Linked DNA regions of Homo sapiens: region 2 is linked to region 1. The links come from fine-mapping of genetic effects on gene expression. A gene starts in region 1. The other region holds a variant in brackets. All regions are shown on one strand. Distances are from middle to middle. Region 1 holds the start of PRMT1 (protein arginine methyltransferase 1). Region 2 overlaps KASH5 (KASH domain containing 5).

Region 1 (9,592 bases):
CTGCCTGGCATGCAGGCATTTTGTTGGTGAGGTTATATGGCTACCTGCTGCCTTTCCAACAGTGCCTGCCAGGATGCCCTCCCGGGGAACCCCCTGCCTCCGTCCTGCTCCTTCTGGTGGGCTCTGGTTTCACCCCCAACGAGGCCTTCCCAGGTCCCCATTGACAATCACAGCCACCTGCACACCCTCCCACCGCCCTCCTTCCCCCTTCCTGCTTTACTTTTCCTTCCATAGCACTTTGGGCCTTCCAACAGATGGTGGAATTGACTTGTTTTACTTGTCTTCTGGTTTATTTTTCTTTGTTGGTGTCTCCCACCTCTAACACATCAGCTTCAGGAGACCCAGAAGTCTTCCCCTCTCCTTTTCTTACTTTATCTCCAGTGCCGGTTTCAGAGTTGGATTGGGCTCCAGCGTGCTGGCCCTGTGGCTTGGCGACTGTCGCAGTCTCCCTGAGCGGCACTCTCCCCACTGGTCCAGTGAGCACCGTCTCATTTACCTGCCTTGGGGGGTCGCTGTGGGTATTCACTGAGAGAGGGACACAAGCCAGGCTCTGGATGGAACCGGTTTCCCTGGCAGGAGCTGGTCAAGTGTGTTTGAGGAGCAGGGAGGAGGAGGCCAGTAGGGCTACAGTAGGGTGAGCGGGCGACAGATGAGAGGAGGAGAGGCGCCGGGCCAGCCAGGACCCTGTGGTCACGGTGAGTGACAACTCGGACTTTGACTCTGGGTAAGCCAAGGTCTCTGAGCAGCGGAGGGACAGGCGCTGATTTAGGCGCTAATGGGCGCCCTCTGGCGGCTGCCTGGGGACAGACTGCTGGGGGCGAGGGCAGAAGTAGGGGCACAGGGAGGAGGTGAGTGGATCTCACCCAAGTCGGGGGCGGTGGAGAATGCTGGATTTAACTTAGCGGTGAAGCTGACAGATTTGGCTAATGGGCCAGATGTGGGGACAGACTAAAGGATGCTGGCCCGAGCAGCTGCAGGGCGACATCTTAAGTTCCCCGAGATGGGGAAGGTGTGGGGATGGGGGCGATGGGGGTGGGGAGCAGGACTGGAGGTGGTCCGGTCTACAGTAAGATCAGAACTCATAGCACATGTTGAGGGGAATGGATATAAGTGTTGGGCTCAGCAAAGAAGCTCGTTTATTTTATTTTATTTTAATTTTTCAGATGGAGTCTCACTCTATTGCCCAGACTGGAGTGCAGTGGCACGACCTTGGCTCACTGCAACCTCCACCTCCTGGGTTCAAGCGATTCCCTGCCTCAGCCTCCTGAGTAGCTGGGGTTACAGGCGCACACCACCATGTCCGGCTAATTTTGTAGTTTTAGCAGAGACGGGGTTTTGCCCTGTTGGCCAGGCTGGTCTCGAACTCTTGGCCTCAAGTGATCCACCCACCTCGGCCTCCCAAAGTGCTGGAATTACAGGCTGAGCTACCACGCCTGGACAATTTCTTAAAAAATTTTTTTAAAGTAGGATTGATAGCAGATGAGTTTTCTCGGTGGGCCAGGTCCTCTGCTAGGGATTTCAATGGAATGATCCCATTTAAACCCACTACAACCTCATGGGGCTCTTATTGTCCTCGTCTTGTGGGGGCAGAGAGGAAAAGTCCCCAGCATGCAGAGTGTTGGAATCTGGATTTGTACACAAAGCCACGACTCTGAATTGTTCAAATCCCAAGACTCTCTTCCCCATCTCTGACTCTGTCCCCCAACTCTTCACTCTCTCTGGATCTCTGTCTAATCCCACTCCAGTGTCCTGACCCTCCTCGAGCTCAACCTTTCCTCCTCCTGCTAGGACCCTGCCCCCTCATCCCTGTGCCCTTCTGTCTGGGTCTCTGTCCCCTTGTCTGGGTGTCTGTCACCCTCCGCTCTCTGGTTCCTCGCCTTCCCGTCTCTAATCTCACAGGGCTGATGTGGACGCTGCTGTATGGGGGGAACACCTGCCCTGCTCACAGGGCTCTGCCACTTTTCCCTTCCAGGAGGGCATCCTGGCTGTTTCACCCGTGGACTTGAACTTGCCATTGGACTGAGCTCTTTCTCAGAAGCTGCTACAAGATGACACCTCATGTCCCTGCCCTCTTCGTGTGCTTTTCCAAGTCTTCCTATTCCACTCAGGGCTGTGGGGTGGTGGTTGCCCTACCTGTTTTTGCCAAAAATAAATTGTTTAAAACTTTTCTTATTAAAAACGTTACAAAGTATTCAATTGTCTGTTCTTACACTTGGGAACTAAAGTTTTAAGGAGAGGAGATTTGGTTCAGAGATTTCTGTGGCTTACGCAAATTGAGGAAAGAACCAGTTCATTCATTCTAGAAATATTTATTTGCAGCACCTACAAGAGCCTGTCTCCTGGACATGTAACATATTTGAGAGAATACCTGTAAATATTCCAGCAACTTGCATTTTTTTTTCCTATTGCACGATCTGGTTATTCTAGCTAATGCTGTATGATGGTCATGGAGTCTTTCCAGTGAATTCCACAGAAAGGTACAGTCTAACTTCACCTGTGTCTAGGACACCACCCTCTTCTTGTTTTTCTCCTCCCATTGCTCCTTTCAAGTCTCTCTTGCTGGTTTCTCATCTACCTACAGACCAGTGGTTTGTCTCACACACACCCCCCACTCTCCCTTTTTTTTTGGAGATAGGGTCTTGCTCTGTTGCCTATACTTGCACTGTTATATAGATACAGTGGCACTATCATGGCTCACTGCAGCCTCAACCTCCTGGGCTCAAGTGATCCTCCCACTTCAGCCTCTCTAGTAGCTGGAACTAAAGGCATGCGACACGACGCCTAGCTAATTTTTAAAAAAGAATTTTTATGGGAGGCCAAGGCAGGTGGATCACTTGAGGTCAGGAGTTCAAGACCAGCCAGGCCAACATGGTGAAACCCCATCTCTACTAAAAATACAAAAATTAGCCGGGCATGGTGGTGGGTGCCTGTAATCCCAGCTACTTGGGTGGCTGAGGCACGAGACTCGCTTGAACCCGGGAGGCAAGAGGTTGCAGTGAGTTGAGATCACGCCACTGCACTCCAGCCTGGGCAACAGAGCGAGACTCCGTCTCAAAAAAAAAAAAATTGTAGAAATGGGGTCTCCCTTATGTTGCCCAGGCTGGTCTCCACCTCCTGGGCTCAAGTGATCCTCCTACCTTGGCATCCCAAAGTCCTGGGATCACAGGCATGAGTCACTGTGCCTGGGCGGTTTGTCTCCTTTATAGGGCCATATCCCCCTTCACAGAGTAATGTTTGTAAATTAATAAGTGAAATGTACAGGATTACAAACCGAACCAATTACAGTTGATCCTCAGTATTTGTAGATTATTTGCAAATTTGCATCCTTGCTACAATGTATTCATACCCCAAAAATTAAGGCAGTGCTTTTGTGGTGTTTTGGAGGGCAATGCTTATGCACAGAGCTGCAACAAGCTAAAGACCTGATGTGCATATTTGCAGCTGGGCTCCTCTTGCTTCAGCTCAAACACTGGAAACAAATGTCCTTTTCTTGGTTTGTTTAGTGCCATGCTTTTCAATTTTTTTTTTTTTTTTTAAAGTTAGAGTCTCGGTCTGTCGCTCGAGCTGGAGTGCAATGGCTTCATCCTGGCTCACTGCAACCTCCACCTCCTGAGCTCAAGCGATTCTCCTGCCTCAGCCTCCCAAGTAGCTGGGATTACAGGCGTGTGCCACCAGTCCTGGCTAATTTTTTTATTTTTATTTTTATTTATTTTATTATTTTTTGAGATGGAGTCTCGCTGTGTCGCCTAGGCTGGAGTGCAGTGGCACCATCTCAGCTCACTGCAACCTCTGCCTCCCGGGTTCACGTGATTCTCCTGCCTCAGCCTCTGGAGCAGCTGGGACTACAGGCGCCCACCACCACACCCGGCTAATTTTTGTTTTTTTAGTAGAGACGGGGGTTTCACCATATTGGCTAGGCTGGTCTCGAACTCCTGAGCTTGTGATCCGCCCACCTCAGCCTTCCAAAATGCTGGGATTACAGGCGTGAGTCACCGCGCCCGGCCAAATTTTTTTTTTTTTTTTTTTTGAGACAAGAGTCTCGCTCTGTCACCCAGGCTGGAGTGCAGTGGCGCGATCTCAGCTCACTGCAAGCTCCGCCTCCCGGGTTCACGCCATCCTCCTGCCTAAGCCTCCACGCCCGGCTAATTTTTTGTATTTTTAGTAGAGACGGGGGTTTCACCATGTTAGCCAGGATGGTCTCGACCTCCTGACCTTGTGATCCGCCCGCCTCGGTCTCCCAAAATGCTGGGATTACAGGCGTGAGCCACCGCGCCCGGCCGCCTGGCGTAATTTTTGTATTTTTAATAGAAATGGGGGTTTCACCATGTTGCCCAGACTGGTCTCGAACTCCTGATGTCAAGTGATCCGCCTGCCTCCGCCTCCTAAAGTGCTGGAATTACACCCGTGAGCCATCGCGCCCGAACCCTATTGTAAATTTTAAGTCTCAGGCGTTTGCCAGCGGCACGCCAGAGAGTATAGCCTGCGCGGAGGCCCAGAAACCAAAGAGCGAGCTCATTCCGGGATTGGAGAGAAGTGTGAGCAGAGGGAAGTAGAGGGATCGGGGAGAGGAGGGGCAGGACCCACGCATTCGGCCCTTTGCATTCAGCTTCATTCAACTAGGAACTTTTTCTGCAAATCAAGGAAAGCTTCCCGGAGGAAGTGGTGCCTAAGCTGTGCTCTGATTCACGTTTAGAAGCTGACCAGACAAAGAGAGGTGGGCGTTCCTGGCAGGGGGAGGGACTTGGCAAAAACCAAGTGGCTTGAGAGGGGTTGATGGTTTTAAAAAACTTGGAATGATTATGTCAAGGGCTAGGGATTTAATGTGTTGACGACGGACTCCTATTCCTCACTTGCTTCGGGACCCCAGCTATGCCCTTCCTCTCTCTGGGCCTCTCACCGATTCCGTTTTTCCCCCAGGTAATGAGCACAAGCTCCCTTTTTCCTCCAGACTCCCCCCGGGTTGGGAGGATCCACCGAGTGGACGAGGAGTGATAATTCCTTTGAGCCAATCGTTGGTGCCTGAAGCCCCGCCTTCTTCCCTACCCGTGGGCCAATTGCCGTGTTCTCCTTGAGGCCGGCCGCTTGGCGAGGGTGGGCCAAAGGCTGCGTGACGTCGCTTCCGGATAAACCAATGGCAGCGATTAGGAGGCGGGTCGTTTTGGTGATGGACAGGTGTTTCAAGACGCCCCTTTAGCGCGGGGCTCCCCGGGAAGCTTTGAGGCGGTGCTGGGTGTAAAGGGGAGGGCATTCCTGGTGGATTTTGCCCAATCACCAGTCGCGCTTCTTGCAATAGACGGGCAGTTTTCCCCATCCCGGGTCGACTTGAGGGGGCGGGATTCTGGACGCCAGAGTTGGCAAACCCCTGACCTATGATGGACGTATTCTCTAGCCAATTACTAGACGGTATTCTCAGACGGGCCGCCTCCATTGCCAATGAAATCTTCCAGCGGGGTCGCGGTAGGCGGGCCGTGGACCCTCTGGTATAAGGCGGTCCCGGGGGAGTGAGGAGAAAGGGGGGGTCTTGGCGGCCGGAGGAGGAGTAGGTGCGGGTGAAGATGGCGGCAGCCGAGGCCGCGAACTGCATCATGGAGGTGAGCGCTTGGAGCGCCGCCGTGGGCGGGAGGCGGCTTTGGGTCGGTGTTTCACGCCTCTGTGGTGGGGAAAGGGCTCTAAGTTGGCGATATGGGGTTGGAGGTCCCCCGCCGCACACGGGGGCGCCGCACGTTCCACATCCGGGGATATCGTTTGAGGTGACGGCTCCCTAGCTTCCAAGGGCCTTCGGCATCCGGCCTAGCGGAGGGTCTTATCCCCCCTCCCACGTGGAGGAGGGCTGGGGGCGCTTCCGGCCAGGCCCCCACGTGGCCGCTGCGCGGTGGGTGGGGAGGGGGTGTGCCGAGTCCAGTGGCCCGGCGGGCTCCACGTGCGGGACAAAGGCCCCGCCCCCGGCCGGGGAGGGGCGCCCAGGGGGGCGGGGAGGGGGTCCGACCCTCCTGACGCCCCCAGCCCTCCTCCCCGGGGACCTGGGCACACGCCGTGGGGTGTGATCGACCTGGGGCCCTCCACGATGTGGGGAGTCTCTTGGGAGGAGCAGTGCTTCTCAGCCCTTTACCAACCTCCTTCCGAGCTCCGGGGGCATCTGTTGGGATATCGGACCCGGTTTTGTGCGTTCTGGGTTAGGGACTGGAGGAAAACCAAGAATGGGGTCCCCCGCCGACCCCGTTTCCCCTCCCAGAATTCTCCCCCTCGCCCAGGGCTTTAGGAGTTGGGGGATGGGGCATGCCCCTGTGACCTCCCTCTGGGTGGTGGTGGGGCATCTAGATAGAGATTTTCCCATTAATAGGCGCCGTGCACCCCCTTGTGGCCATTTCTGGGTGTGTGGGAGGGACATCTTTTTCATGGGGCGTGTCCTGAAGCCCACCTCCCCTCGGATTTCTTCCTGGCGGGCGGAGGGAGGAGGGTATGTCCGCTGGGAAGGAGTTGTGGGAAATATGTAGGCTGAGAGCTTTACCCTACTGGAGCCGTTTATCTCCCCCGGGTCTTTGTGAGGGTGCGAGATGACCTCCTTCTTCCTGAAGCCCTGTGCAGGGTCCTGAGCCCTGGGGTCCTGAGAGTGGGTGCCTGAAATGGTTTCGAGTGAGGTTTGGTTCTCGTGCAGCCATGTGGGGGAGGTTTCAGTCTTGCGTTTCAAGCCCTCTGGGGCTGGGGTTGTCTGGCGGTAGTTTTCAGTGGTATTGAGAAATAGGCCCGAGTGGGAAACCCCCTCAGCACCTTTCTTCTTATAGGCATCCCCGCTAGCTTGGGAGAGCTGGAGGGAGGGTGCTTGGAGCCTAGTAGGTCATGGCCTGTGACGTGGCCCTTCTTGGAGACTTGGATAGTGGTCACATCTGGAAGAGATGTAATCTGATGGGGCCTCTGTCCTTCCACCCCTTACCTATGGCATTGGCTGGAGGGGCAGGTCAGCTCTCAGCTGTCAGGATGCAGCTCCCAGGGGTCACTGTAATGACTTCCCACCCTCTTGGCTGTCTCCTGCACCTGGGGCTCTATGGATGGAGGAAATAACTTTCCCAGAGGTGGCCTCAGGCTTGGCCGCACCTGGAAGTCTTCAGGGCCTGGGATGGGTGTCTGAATGGGGGCGATGGCCTGACTCCCCAAGCCACTTTTTTTTTTTTTTTTTTTGAGACGGAGTCTTACTCTGTCACCCAGGCTGGAGTGCAATGGCTTGATCTCGGCTCATTGCAACCTCCGCCTCCCGGGTTCAAGCGATTCTCCTGCTTCAGCCTCCTGAGTAGCTGGGATTACAGGCACCCGCCACCAGGCCCAGCTAATTTTTGTATTTTTAGTAGAGATAGGGTTTCACCATGTTGGTCAGGCTGGTCTCAAACTCCTGACCTCAGGTGACCCACCTGCCTCGGCCTCCCAAAGTGCCGGGATTGCAGGTGTGAGCCACCGTGCCCCCAAGCCACTTTCTGGAGTCCTCTCATTCTTAGAGGGTCCAGGAGCTGCCCATCTTCCCTGGGACCCTACCTTCGTGGGCAGAGGGTCATAAGGGAGGGGGTTGGTTCCAGCTGGTTTTGTTTGGGGCTCCTGAGTCCAAGGCAGGAGCTGGGGTCTGGGGTACTAGCTCTGGGGAAGTACCCGTGTGCCACACCTCTATTCTGGAATCCTCTCAGACATGAGACTGGTTTGCAGAGGTGGCAGATGCCCTGTGGGCATATCCTGCCAGCCCCGCTCCCTTCTGCTATTCATGGCACCCTAGGATAGGGGTGTGTGTGTCAGGAAGTGTCACCTAATCTGGAGGAGATTAGGTGATGAGAGGGAGCGACAGCTGGCGGTGGTGGGTGCCAATTCCCCTGGCCTGGATGGGGGAGGTGTGTGGTCAGCTGCCTGGCCAGAGAGGGGCAGCGTGGGGGTGGGCCACCATCTCTCCAGCCACAGCTGGGATAGGAGACCCCCCTTTCTTCTCCCCTCACTTTTCCCACCCTTTCTTAAACACCCCACCTCATTACTTGCCCCCTTCGCCACCACTCCCCACCAAGAAGGAGAATTGCTGGAAACCCACCCCCCGGCCAGAGCCCAGGTTCCGCCACCCAGCCCTCCCACAGCCACTCCCAGTAGCTAATCCTTTTTCCCTGTTACTCTCTCCTAGAATTTTGTAGCCACCTTGGCTAATGGGATGAGCCTCCAGCCGCCTCTTGAAGAAGTAAATATCCTTTTGTGAGACCCCTCCCCACCCTGACCTCCACATCAATATATCTTGCCACACATCTGGCCCTTTCTTGAGGTCTAACCATACCCCTCTTGCTTCAAACCAGTTTACCCCAGGCCCCCAGACACTTAGTAGCAACCCCTCCAGGTTCACAGCCCCCGCTGGCCTCCCCCAGTATCGCCGCTACTTCCTTAACTCCACCTCCAACCCCCCTTTGCCCTTCCCTGTGTCTGCCCCCATTTTCCTTCCCCTCCCCTCCCCAGCTGTGGGCTGAGCTAGAGACGGGGTCAGAGAGACTGGAGAGATGGTAGGCGTGGCTGAGGTATCGGGGTGCTCCCCTGGATGGTGCTCTGGGGGGGTCCTGGAAGTGGAAAATGGGGTTGTTAGGTTTTGGGGTTCCTGGGGGGGCAAGATGGCAGGCGGGGGCTGTAGGGTTGTCATGGTATGATTTTGGGGGTTCTATACTACTCTTCAGGGAAAAGTAGGGCGCTGGAGGTTTAAGAGGCTGTGGGGAGCCCCCAGATCTGACCCATGATCCCATCGGCCCCCTCCCAGGTGTCCTGTGGCCAGGCGGAAAGCAGTGAGAAGCCCAACGCTGAGGACATGACATCCAAAGATTACTACTTTGACTCCTACGCACACTTTGGCATCCACGAGGTCAGTGGGGACAGTCCCCAAGGCCCCAATCTTAGGGGGGCTTAAATGTTGGGGAAGGGGTGGAACCTGTTTTCCCACGCATGCGCACTGCTTCCCCTGGCCGCAGGCCGCCCCCCTGCCCCTCTGCTGCGCACTTCCTAGGGTCGCCTCGCCAAGCCGTTGCCTTGGAGACCGAGGTTAGCCTGAATCTCTGCAGGGGCCTCGCGCCGAAGGCTGGGGTGGGAGAGCGCATGCGTGCCTGGGGCCTTAGCCAGAGGTCGGGCAGGGCCCACTGGTCTCTGCCGCCCTCTAGTGACCGGCGGTGGGACTGCGCCCCGGCTGCTCCCGCCCTAACAGCTTCTGCACACTTCAGATCTGACTGAAGACACTGAAATCCCAGAACGAAGCTGGGGTGGCATTCTAAGGAATTTTCTTTTCCCCCTGAGGCCTTTTTCATAAAATTGTGGCAAAATATGCATAAAATTGCCATTTTTTATTTTTAGAGACGGTCTCGCTCTGTCGCCCAGGCTAGAGTGCATTGGTGCAATCATGGCTCACTGCAGCCTCGACCTCCCCGGCTCAGGTGATCCCCCCACTTCCACTTTCGGAGTAGCTGGGACCACAGGCGCGCGCCACCACGCCCAGCTGATGTTCTTATTTTTCTGTAGAGATAATCTTGCCTTGTTGCCCAGGCTGGTCTCAAACTCTTGGGATCAAGTGATCCTCCGGCTTTGGCCTCCTGAGGTGCTG
Region 2 (9,990 bases), 280 kb before region 1:
GTATAATATGAGCCACATAGGTAATTTATTATTTTTTAAAAGAAAAAAGGAACAGGTGAAATGAATGTTGATAATGGATTTTCCTTATATAGCCAGACTAATACCCTGTATATTATATATGTATACAGGATATACATACATAGAGATATATATATGTATATAGCCAATATATAGCCAATATAAAAAATGTATCCAGATAATCTGTTTTTTTCATACTAAGCCCTAAAGATCTAGCGTGTACTTTACACTAACAGAGCATTTCAGTCTACACTCGCCTCAGTTCAGGTGCTCCAGAAGGAGAGACTGCCCTGTTGGCTGGGACCCCAGAGCAACTCCTGACTCACTGTGGGAGCTCACTTACTGTTGAGTGAACGGACGGATGTAGGTTGAACGGGTGTGAAAGCTGGCTTCAGAGGGTGGGGAGGAGGCACTGGGGTTGCCTCTCTGAAACTCATCTGCCAAGTGAGAGAGCCCAGTCTGATGGGGATGGTAGGGCCCCTTTCTTAGAGGCTCCCAGGCATCCACGGCACAGCCTGCGTCTTTTTCTACAAAGCCCCAGACCTCAGGAGGCTTTCCAGATAGGAGGGTCAGAGGTAGACACCAGGGTGTGGGAACCAGAGGACAGGCTGTCTAGTGACAGCCATCTAAACTTCACCTGCACCAGCAGAGGGCGTGCAGCCACCAGGATCCGGGTGGCAAGGGCTGAGACAGCTTCGAGAGGCTCTGGAAGGAAAGGTAGGAACACACCCAGAAGGAGAGATGGAGACAGAGGAAGGCAAAGGGAAAAAGAAACAGCAGAGGAAGGAAAGAGAAGACTTAGGGAATGGAGAGTCTCTGAGATATGGGAAGGGAAGCACAGAGACTGAGATACAGGGAAGAAAACGGGGACAAGCGACATGGAGGCAGAGAGACAGGACGTGGGGAAGAGAGACTGGGAGAAAGATAGAGAGAAAGAGCCAAAGAGAAATGTAACGAAGAGGCAAGGACAGAGACATAGAGGAGATAGAGACACTGAGGAAGGAGATCTTCCTGAGGAACAGAAATGACATCTCCCTGGGGGAATCCTGGGATGCGACTTCAGACACATGCTGATCCTCAGAGCCAGCACGACCTGATGCCAGTCCTGAGTTCTATTCCCAGCTTAGCTCTCTCTGGCAAGCAGCCCTGGGTGAACCATCTCATTGGGCCTCAGGGTCCTCGTTCATGTAACATGAGAAAGACACTGAGAGGGCTGGGTATGGTGGCTCACACCTGTAATCCCAGCACTTTGCGAGGCCAAGGTGGGCGGATCACTTGAGGTCAGGAGTTCGAGACCAGCCTTGCCAACAGGGTGAAACCCCATCTCTACTAAAAATACAAAAATTAGCTGGGCCTGGTAGCAGGCACCTGTAATCCCAGCTACTCGGGAGGCTGACGCAGGAGAATTGCTTGAACCTTGGAGGCAGAAGTTGCAGTGAGCGGAGATCACGCTACTGCACTCCAGCCTGGGTGACACAGCGAGACTCCATCTCAAAAAAAAAAAAAACAGTGAGAGGAGGAAAACAGACTGGGGCTAAAGCCCTGGTCTCCCCCTAACTGTGAGTCCACACGCCCCTTCCCAAGGGCCAAACCTAGGAGCATAGGTTCAAGACAGAGGGGGTGCAAATTTCACTCACTGCAGAGAATCCTGGAAGAGTTAGAGGGATGAGAAAGTTGACTCATATGTTAAACAGGGTGACCTTTGGCGAGTTCTTAGTTTCTCTATGCCTTAGTCCCCTCATTTGTAAAGTAGGGATTATAATAGCATCGATTATTATTATGCTAGTAGACAGTTCATGTAAAGTGCTCAGAAAAGGCCTGGCACCTACTAAATGCTCAATAAGTGTTCAATTCTATTCTTGAGTCCCCACCACGTGCCAGGCCTTCTGCCAAAGCCTTTCTAGATTGTATCTCATTTTCTCTCTAGGAAAGAGGTAACACCAACCCCATTTTCCAGAGGAAGAAACTGAGGCCCAAGAGAAGTTGAGTCCATTGCCCCAGGTGCCACCACTTGTCTGAGGCCAAGCCTCGGTTGCCCCCTGGATCTACCCCGTCCTGCAGCCTGTGCTCAGTGAGCTGCTGCACCCAGCTGTTCAAGGCCAGGGCAGGGAGCCTAGAAGTTCACTTCCAGCCCTGGGAGAGAGGCTGGGCCAGCCCAGTGGCTCCTGCAGTTGAGGATCTCTTCCTATGTCATGGAGCATTTGTTGAGCACCTGCCATCTGCAGGTGTTGTGGCTACAACAGTAGACAAATAGACCCCAGGACGTGTGTGTGTGTGTGTGTGTGTGTGTGTGTGTGTGTGTACATGCGTGTGCTTCACATACACAGAGCTAACTCAGCCCTGGTGAGGAGGATCACTCTACCCACCCCCCCAGTAGGGAAACCGAGGCTCTAACAGAAGAGACTTGCCCACAGATGTGCAGCTGGACTCTGCACCCAGGTCTGACACACTGATCCAGCTCATAACCATTCCCTCACTGCCCACCCTGTCTGGTTTACCCTATCCCTTCATGTCTCAGCCCCTGGCCATGGGCTCCAATGATGCCACCCTTGCCTTAGGGATGCAGGGAGGAGAGAGACCTGGTCCCCAGGGTGGGCTGGGAGACCGGAGATGCAGCAGGCGGGATCGATCTGGGCTGCCCATGCATTATTGGATTGTTCCTGGCTCCTGGGCCCCCCCTTCACTCTCAGCTCCTCCCAGAATCCTCTCTTCTTTGCCCTCCCCGACCCTGTCCCTCTCTGAGTCCAGCCTGGGAGGCTGGAGAGGAGAGGAGGAAAGGGTGATCTCAGAGCGTTCTTCTCTGGGCTCCTAAGCCAATTGGACACAAAAAGACAGCAGGGGGGACTTCCTGGTTTGAAAGATGGGGGGAAGTAACTCAGAGACCCTCACATTGTTGCCCCCTCCTGAAGCTTCCTGCTGTTCCCCACCCGCCCGAACTCTCAGTGCTCTGAGTGAATTCCCTCCCCGCTACAGAGCCCAGGAGGCTGAGGACCTGGGGTCACCCCTCTTCCTTCCTTATTCTTCCCACTGGTGAGCTGAGCCCTCTTGTCTCCCCAGTGTACCTCCGGGAGCGGCCTGAGGAGGCAAGGCTGGGAATGCCGGTCAGCTTGGAGGAGCAAATACTCAACTCCACGTTCGAAGCTTGTGACCCTCAGAGGACAGGTGGTGGGGGCATGAGGGGTGCTGGGGACCAGTGCGGGCAGGATGGGGTGGAGGCTGGGAACTGGGGAGCCTCAGAGAGAAGACTGGGCTAAGGCCCCCTCTTGGGGGTATTGTAAGAACAAAGTGGGTGATTATGGGAAGCTTCAGGAAGAAGAACGTGGATAATGGGGTGAAGGCCTTTTAGAATGAGGAAAACTTGGGGGACGTTGATGGAAGAGGGCAGAGTTTTGGGGTCGTGGGATAGGGGAGGGAGGCAGCCACCATGGTGGCGTGGGGCATGGCTGATGCTGTCCCTATGTCCATCCCCTTTGGTTTACCCTGTGATGGGGGGATGACTGGGCCCCATTTCCAGGTGAAAAAGTGGACTCAGAGGAGGGGAAAGGGCTTGCCCAGTGTGTCTCCACTGGGCCATGGAGCAGGAGTGCCACCAGCCTAGCCAGTGACATCCTGGTCCCAAGCTGCTGCCAGTCCATACCCATCACTCCCCACCTGCCCCAGACCCCCTCACTGCATGCTCTGTCACAGGCACTGTGGCTGTGGCCCAGGTGCTGGCCTACCTGGAGGCT[G/A]TGACAGGCCAGGGCCCCCAGGATGCACGCCTCCAAACATTGGCCAACAGCCTGGACCCCAATGGGGAGGGCCCTAAGGCCACTGTGGACTTGGACACTTTCCTGGTTGTCATGCGTGACTGGATTGCTGCCTGTCAACTACATGGGTGAGTCCCCACATCTTCATCCTCCTCTGGGAAGTCCTTCCTAAGATCTAACCTCATACCTGCTTACTGGAGCCAGCATCCTTTAGGCCCAAGGACCTACTGTGTTTGGAATGAGGCTGTGGAGAGAAAAATGAAGAGACGGGATTCAGAGGGGGTAGATAGGGAGTCTGAGGACAAAATAATTTGGATGAGGAAGCAGAGGGGGTCTGGGAGACAGAAATAAAATGGGGCTGGAGAAGGGAGGAGTTTGGGGCTGACAGAGGTCCCTCCCCAACCCTTCACCAAACCCACTCCTTGCCCCTCCTGCTTTTCCATCTGGCCACGGGCACTTGCCATCTGGCCTCACCCTCCTACCCTGTGGTGCCAGCTCTCACCTGACCCGGTCCCCTCCTCCCACCTGCAATCCCCCTGCCTGTGGCTGGTGAGGACTGAGGGGCAGCTACAGTGGGGCGCTAAGCCTCATCCCTTTGATACAGGGGATTAGAGCTGGAAGAGGAGACCGCCTTCCAGGGAGCCCTGACCTCCCGGCAACTGCCATCTGGTGAGATTGCTATATATAGAATGAAGCAGGCAGGCCCTGGGTCAGACAGTGTGGGGACTTACCACCCAGGGCAGAGCAAGGGATAGGGTAGGAACCAGGGACCTTTACTGTAGACTAGAGCTGTGAGTGTGGCTTTCTAGGTCCTCCGTCCCTTCCTTCCGTGAGCTTTGGGTTTCTTTTCTTCAGAGGGTGGTTTCCAACTCGTTCTCCTCACACCAGCCCTATTAGAGAGGCCTACGAGGCCCCGCCTACCTCTGCTCCATCATTAACATCACCTCTCCTCACTCTAGTCCAGGAATTCACAGGCCCACTGGTCTTGCTGCCCTTCCTCGAATGTGCCCCACTTCTGCCCAGCACAGGTCCTTGCTCAGGCTGTTCCCCTCCACTCCTTGCTCCCCACCCTGCTGGACTTTTTTTTTTTTTTTTTTTTTTTTTTTGAGATAAGAGTTTCACTCCTGTTGCCCAGGCTGTTGTGCAATGGCGCAATCTCAGCTCACCGCCACCCCCGCCTCCTGGGTTCAAGCAGTTCTTCTGCCTCAGCCTTCCGCATAGCTGGGATTACAGGCATGCACCACCACGCCCAGCTAATTTTGTATTTTTCATAGAGACGAGGTTTCTCCATGTTGGTCAGGCTGGTCTCGAACTCCCGACCTCAGGTGATCCAACTGCCTTGGCCTCCCAAAGTGCTGGGATTACAGGCGTGAGCCACTGCGCCAAGCCGTCATCCACTCCTCTGGCAAAGGGGAAGCCCTGGTATGCCCCTGGCTAGAGTTCCTTGCTCCCCATGCTCACTCCTAGACTTGTAGGCCTTTCCATTGGAACATCCACCTGCAGAGGAAATCTGATTATCTAGTTAGCCACTGGCACCTGGGTTTAGTTGGCTGGTTTGCTCACCATTGTATCCCCAGGACCTCACACATAGGAGGTGCTCCATAAAAAAAGTGGTCATGATTACAGGCGTGAGCCTGTAATCCCAGCATTTTAGAAGGCCAAAGTGGAAAGAACATTTGAGCCCAGTAGTTTGAGACCAGCCTGGGCAACATAGTGAGACACCATCTCTACTAAAAATAAAAAATTAGCTGAGTGCGGTGGCATGTACCTGTGGTCCTAGCCGGGACACTGAGTCAGGAGGATCGCTTGAGCCTGAAAGGTCAAAGCTGCAGTGAGCCATGCATTGCACCACTGCACTCCAGCCTGGGCAATAGAGCAGGATCCTGTCTTTTAAAAAAAAAAAAAAAAAATGGTGGTCATGTTCCATTTCTCTAGCCATACAAAAAACGGTGGGGAAGGAAGTTCTCTTCAACCTCCTTCATCAGGCTTGGGGGCCCAGGGAGGGCTGCAAGCAGAGGAGGGACTAGAGGCCAGAAGGCCAGAGAAGAGGCTCTGGTGAGGATCCAAGAGGAGAAAGCAAGGGCCGGGGCATGGAGACAGAGAGGAGGGGTGGAGCAGAGAGTCAGGGGCAGGAGGGAGAAGTCTGGGCTCTGCTGGACTGGGGGTGACAGGGAGCAAGGGAGCCAGGTCCGCCCAGTGGCTGAGTGGTCGGTGGGGGATCTGGGAAGGGGAAGGTGAAGTGCTGCCCAGTGTTGGGTGTAAAGAATGTGGGGAGTTAGGGTTATCTGGGAGATCCAGCCTGAGCTCAAGGTAGAAGACAAGCAAGAGGGCTTTACAGTGGGTATAACTGCAGCCCCAAAAGCCCATGAGATTCTCCAGAGCACAGGTGAGGGTGGAGGCAGATGGAGTCCAACCTCAGAGCCCTGGGGCACTTTACGTTTAAGGGTTCCAGGGAAGCCAACATTCTCTTGGCTCTCTCCCTCCAGGATGCCCAGAAGCTGAGGAGCCAGCCAACCTGGAGAGCTTCGGAGGCGAAGACCCCAGACCCGAGCTGTACCTATCCTCACACCCCTCCCTGACCCTCCTGCCCACACCCTGTCCCCTCCAGCCTGCCGAGGCCCGGGTAGGGCTTGGGATCCTTCAGGGAAATGAATGAGGGACGGGGCTTTGCTGAAAGTTCAGGGAGAGCAGAGGAGTCTCTCTCCTGTTTATCTTTCCCCAAAAGAGCCACATCTCCCCACCACCAGCACCTACCTCGACCCGGGGAAATGAGTCAGGGGCTGTGGACAGTGACCTGAACCCCTTCCTTGCCCCTAGACAAGCCACAGCTGACCTGCTGAGCAGCCTGGAGGACCTGGAGCTCAGCAACCGACGTCTGGTTGGGGAGAATGCCAAATTGCAGCGGAGCATGGAGACAGCTGAGGAGGGGTCAGCACGCCTTGGGGAGGAGATCTTGGCTCTGCGTAAGCAGCTTCACAGGTGGGCTGGATGCCACACCCACCCTCCCCAGCGCCCCTGCCTCCGTCCTCCCTGCAGCAGCCGGCCTCTATCTCCCATGCTCGTGTCTGCATCCTGCTCTTTGACTCTGTACCTGTCCTTTCTTTTCCCTTTTCTGTTTTTATCTTTTGTGTCTCTCTGATTCTTATCTCTCAGCCTCTGTTTTGGTCTTTTTATCTTTCCCTTGAGGGTTCAGACTTCTCTCTCTCTCTTTTTTTTTTTTTTGAGACAGGTTCTCACTCTGTCACCCAGGCTGGAGTGCAGTGGGGGTGATCACAGCTCACTGTACCCTCCGCCTCTGGGCTCTAGCGAGCCTCCCACCTCAGCTTCCCAAGTAGCTGGGACCACAGGCCCACCACCCTGCTTGGCTAATTTTGTTTTATTTTTTATAGAAATGAGTTCTCACTGTGTTGCCCATGCTGGTCTCAAACTCCTGGGCTCAAGCCATCCTCCCGCCTTATCCTCCCAAAGTGCTGGGAGTACAGGCCTGAGCCACTGCACCCAGCCTAGATTTCTCTCTTTATTCTTTAACTCTCTGATTCTTCATGTCACTCGCCCTTTCATCTCTCTGTGCTTTGTCATTCTTCATGTTTATCGTGGTCTCCCTGTTCTAGTCCCCCACTCTCTCTAGGTCTCTTTCCCACTTCCTCAGTCTTTTAGGTTAAAACTGGGTCTCTGTGCCCACACCAGGTCTCCTTCTCCTCTTTTCTCTCTGGGTCTCTGTCCTCCCCTCTCTCTGGGTCTCTGTCCCTGCCTACCACCTGGGATCTCTCTGTTGCTAGTGTCTCTCAGAATGGATCTGTCTCTGTGCTTCTCTGCCTTCCTCCCTCTCGTATGGCTCATCTGCCCCCACCCGCATTCAGCACCCAGCAGGCCCTGCAGTTTGCCAAGGCCATGGATGAGGAGCTGGAGGACCTGAAGACTCTGGCCAGGAGCCTGGAGGAACAGAATCGCAGCCTTCTGGCCCAAGCCCGGCAGGCGGTGGGTCTGGCCCAGGGGAAGGAAGGTGCCCTCTCTCTTCTTTGTTTCCTGGAGTCAGGGCGGCAGAGTGTGACTATGGAGTAGGAAGGGGCAGAGGTCACCTGGCTTTCTCCCTCTCTCCAGGCCCTGCTCACCCTAGACTTTTTCAAGCTTACCTGCCATCCTTCTCATGACAAAGGAGACAGCAGGAGCCATCAGGGCTTCCCAGACCCATTCCCCCAGGCCCTGGTTGTGTTTTCAGGGGTGGGAGAAGGGCAACATGGGGGCAAGGAGGCTAGAAATGAAACCTTTGTCCTCTCTCTGGGGTTGGTCAGGAAAAGGAGCAGCAGCATCTGGTGGCTGAGATGGAGACTCTGCAGGAGGAGGTGAGCGGAGGCCCAGCACCACCCCCACCCCTTCCCCAGTCCTTAAGGTCTTCTTGACACCACTCCCTTCTGCCCCCAACACCCCAGCAGCCTGTCTTGGGGAGACCTCAGAATGTCAGTAGTGTGGGAATGTCCCTGAGGTTATATCACACTGTGAGAACAGCCGTGGTTTACAAGAGTGTGAGGCATGGGGTCAGCCTACATGGCTTCAGGCTGAGGCCACCTACATAAGAGTGGACCAGTGCCTCCCTTCTCTGTGCCTCAGTTGCCTCACCTATAAAGATGAACAAAACAATGGCATCTGCCTCAGTGGTTTGTGTGAGACTTCAACCGAAGGATACTTGCAAAGTCTTGGGCACAAGGTAGGACACATAGGATGTGCTCACTAAAAGTTATCTAGCATTGTTTCTATATTAGTATTTTTTACAGTGAATAAAACAGCCAGGCACAGTGGCTCATGCCTGGAATCCCAGCACTTCGGGAGGCCTAGCTGGGTGGACCCCTTTAGCCTAGGAGTTCGAGACCATCCCGGGCAACATGGCAAAACCTTGCCTCTACAAAAAATAGAAAAATAAGCCAGGCATGGTAGTGTGCACCTGTAGTCCAGCCACTCAGGAGGCTGAGGTGGAAAGACTGCACGAGCCCGGGAGACAGAGGTTGCAGTGAGCCAAGATTGCATCATGGCATTCCAGCCTGGATGACAGAGCGAGAGCCTCTCAAAAAAAAAAAAAAAAAAAAAATTGGATTTGAAGTCAACCTTGAGTTCAAATCCCATCTCCGCCACTTACACAATAGGCAACCTTTAAGCATGTGACTTCTCCTTCTCAAGCCTTTACTTTTAGTTTCTTTTTTTTTTTTTTCTTTTTTTTTTTTTTGAGACAGAGTTTCATTCTTGTTGCCCAGGCTGGAGTGGAATGGCGCGATCTTACCTCATGGCAACCACCGTCTCCCGGTTCAAGTGATTCTTCTGCCTCAGCCTCCCAAGTAGCTGGGATTACAGGCATGTGCCACCACACCTGGCTAATTTTGTTTTTTTGTTGGTTGGTTGGTTTGTTTGTTTTAGTAGAGACGGGGTTTTTCCATGTTGGTCAGGCTGGTCTCAAACTCCCGACCTCAGGTGATCTGCCCACCTCAGCCTCCCAAAATGCTGGGATTACAGACATGAGCCACCACACCTGACCTACTTTTATTTTCAAAGAACTGGAAGAAGGGTATCTGTTCAGTAGGCTTGTTTTGAGGATTGACAGCATTTCACTGAGGGACTAGCAAACAATATGAAGAGACTGAGTTCAGCTTCACATTTAATTCAAGCCCCGTTCCATCCAAGACAGAAAAACATCATCTTAGTTCATTCTGGGCCCACCTAATTTTTTTTAGATTGAAACAAACTCATCAATTGACAATGAAACCTGTCACCACCCCCGACCTCAAGGTGGTATCTAAGTTGCAGGAGACTGATGCAGGAGCCTAGTGCTCTAGGAGGCTGCTGATCCTCACTCAATGTTTCTCCTCTCTGCTGTTCATGAGATTGATGGGTTTTGTCCAAGCGTTTGTCACCACTGTGTGCTGGCATCTACTGTGAGGCCCGCATTGCCTTTGGATCTCTGGACATACCATCTTCTTCATCTTCTGGTGGTGATCCCTTATCTGGGCTGGGACTCTTACTCCACCACTTCCACACCCTTCCAGAGCCAGGGAGGTGATTTGGCTACTTTCCTGTGAAAGGGAAGAGGCTGGGGTCACTGCCCAAAGCCCCTGCCTCATTTCCCCAGGCCAGGGTGGGTGCTCATGGTGGGGAGATGTGGCTTCTCTGGGGAAAGAGAAACAGGAGAGAGATTCCTCTGTTCTCCCTGAGCTGTTAGCAAAGTCCCTGTCCGTCACTC

What was found.
Region 2: its variant is fine-mapped to the expression of PRMT1 in whole blood (INTERVAL, PIP 0.92).

The regions. Positions count from the first base shown.
Region 1 is chr19:49,671,726-49,681,317 of GRCh38, forward strand. PRMT1 (protein arginine methyltransferase 1) reads left to right here and starts at 5,546. Exons shown (of 11, transcript NM_001536.6): 1 at 5,546-5,591; 2 at 8,147-8,200; 3 at 8,762-8,863. The coding sequence starts at 5,556. BCL2L12 (BCL2 like 12) reads left to right here. Exons shown (of 7, transcript NM_138639.2): 7 at 1,973-2,191. The coding sequence ends at 2,023. RefSeq lists enhancers at 379-937, 431-620, 5,031-5,180, 5,185-5,916 and silencers at 5,761-6,040, 8,821-9,190, 9,037-9,201.
Region 2 is chr19:49,391,401-49,401,390 of GRCh38, forward strand. KASH5 (KASH domain containing 5) reads left to right here. Exons shown (of 20, transcript NM_144688.5): 3 at 3,076-3,180; 4 at 3,706-3,892; 5 at 4,369-4,433; 6 at 6,251-6,317; 7 at 6,582-6,743; 8 at 7,625-7,742; 9 at 8,057-8,107. Among named protein-coding and RNA genes, the nearest start is that of KASH5, 8.1 kb to the left of the region's middle. The variant G/A (reference allele first, on the strand shown) is at 3,747.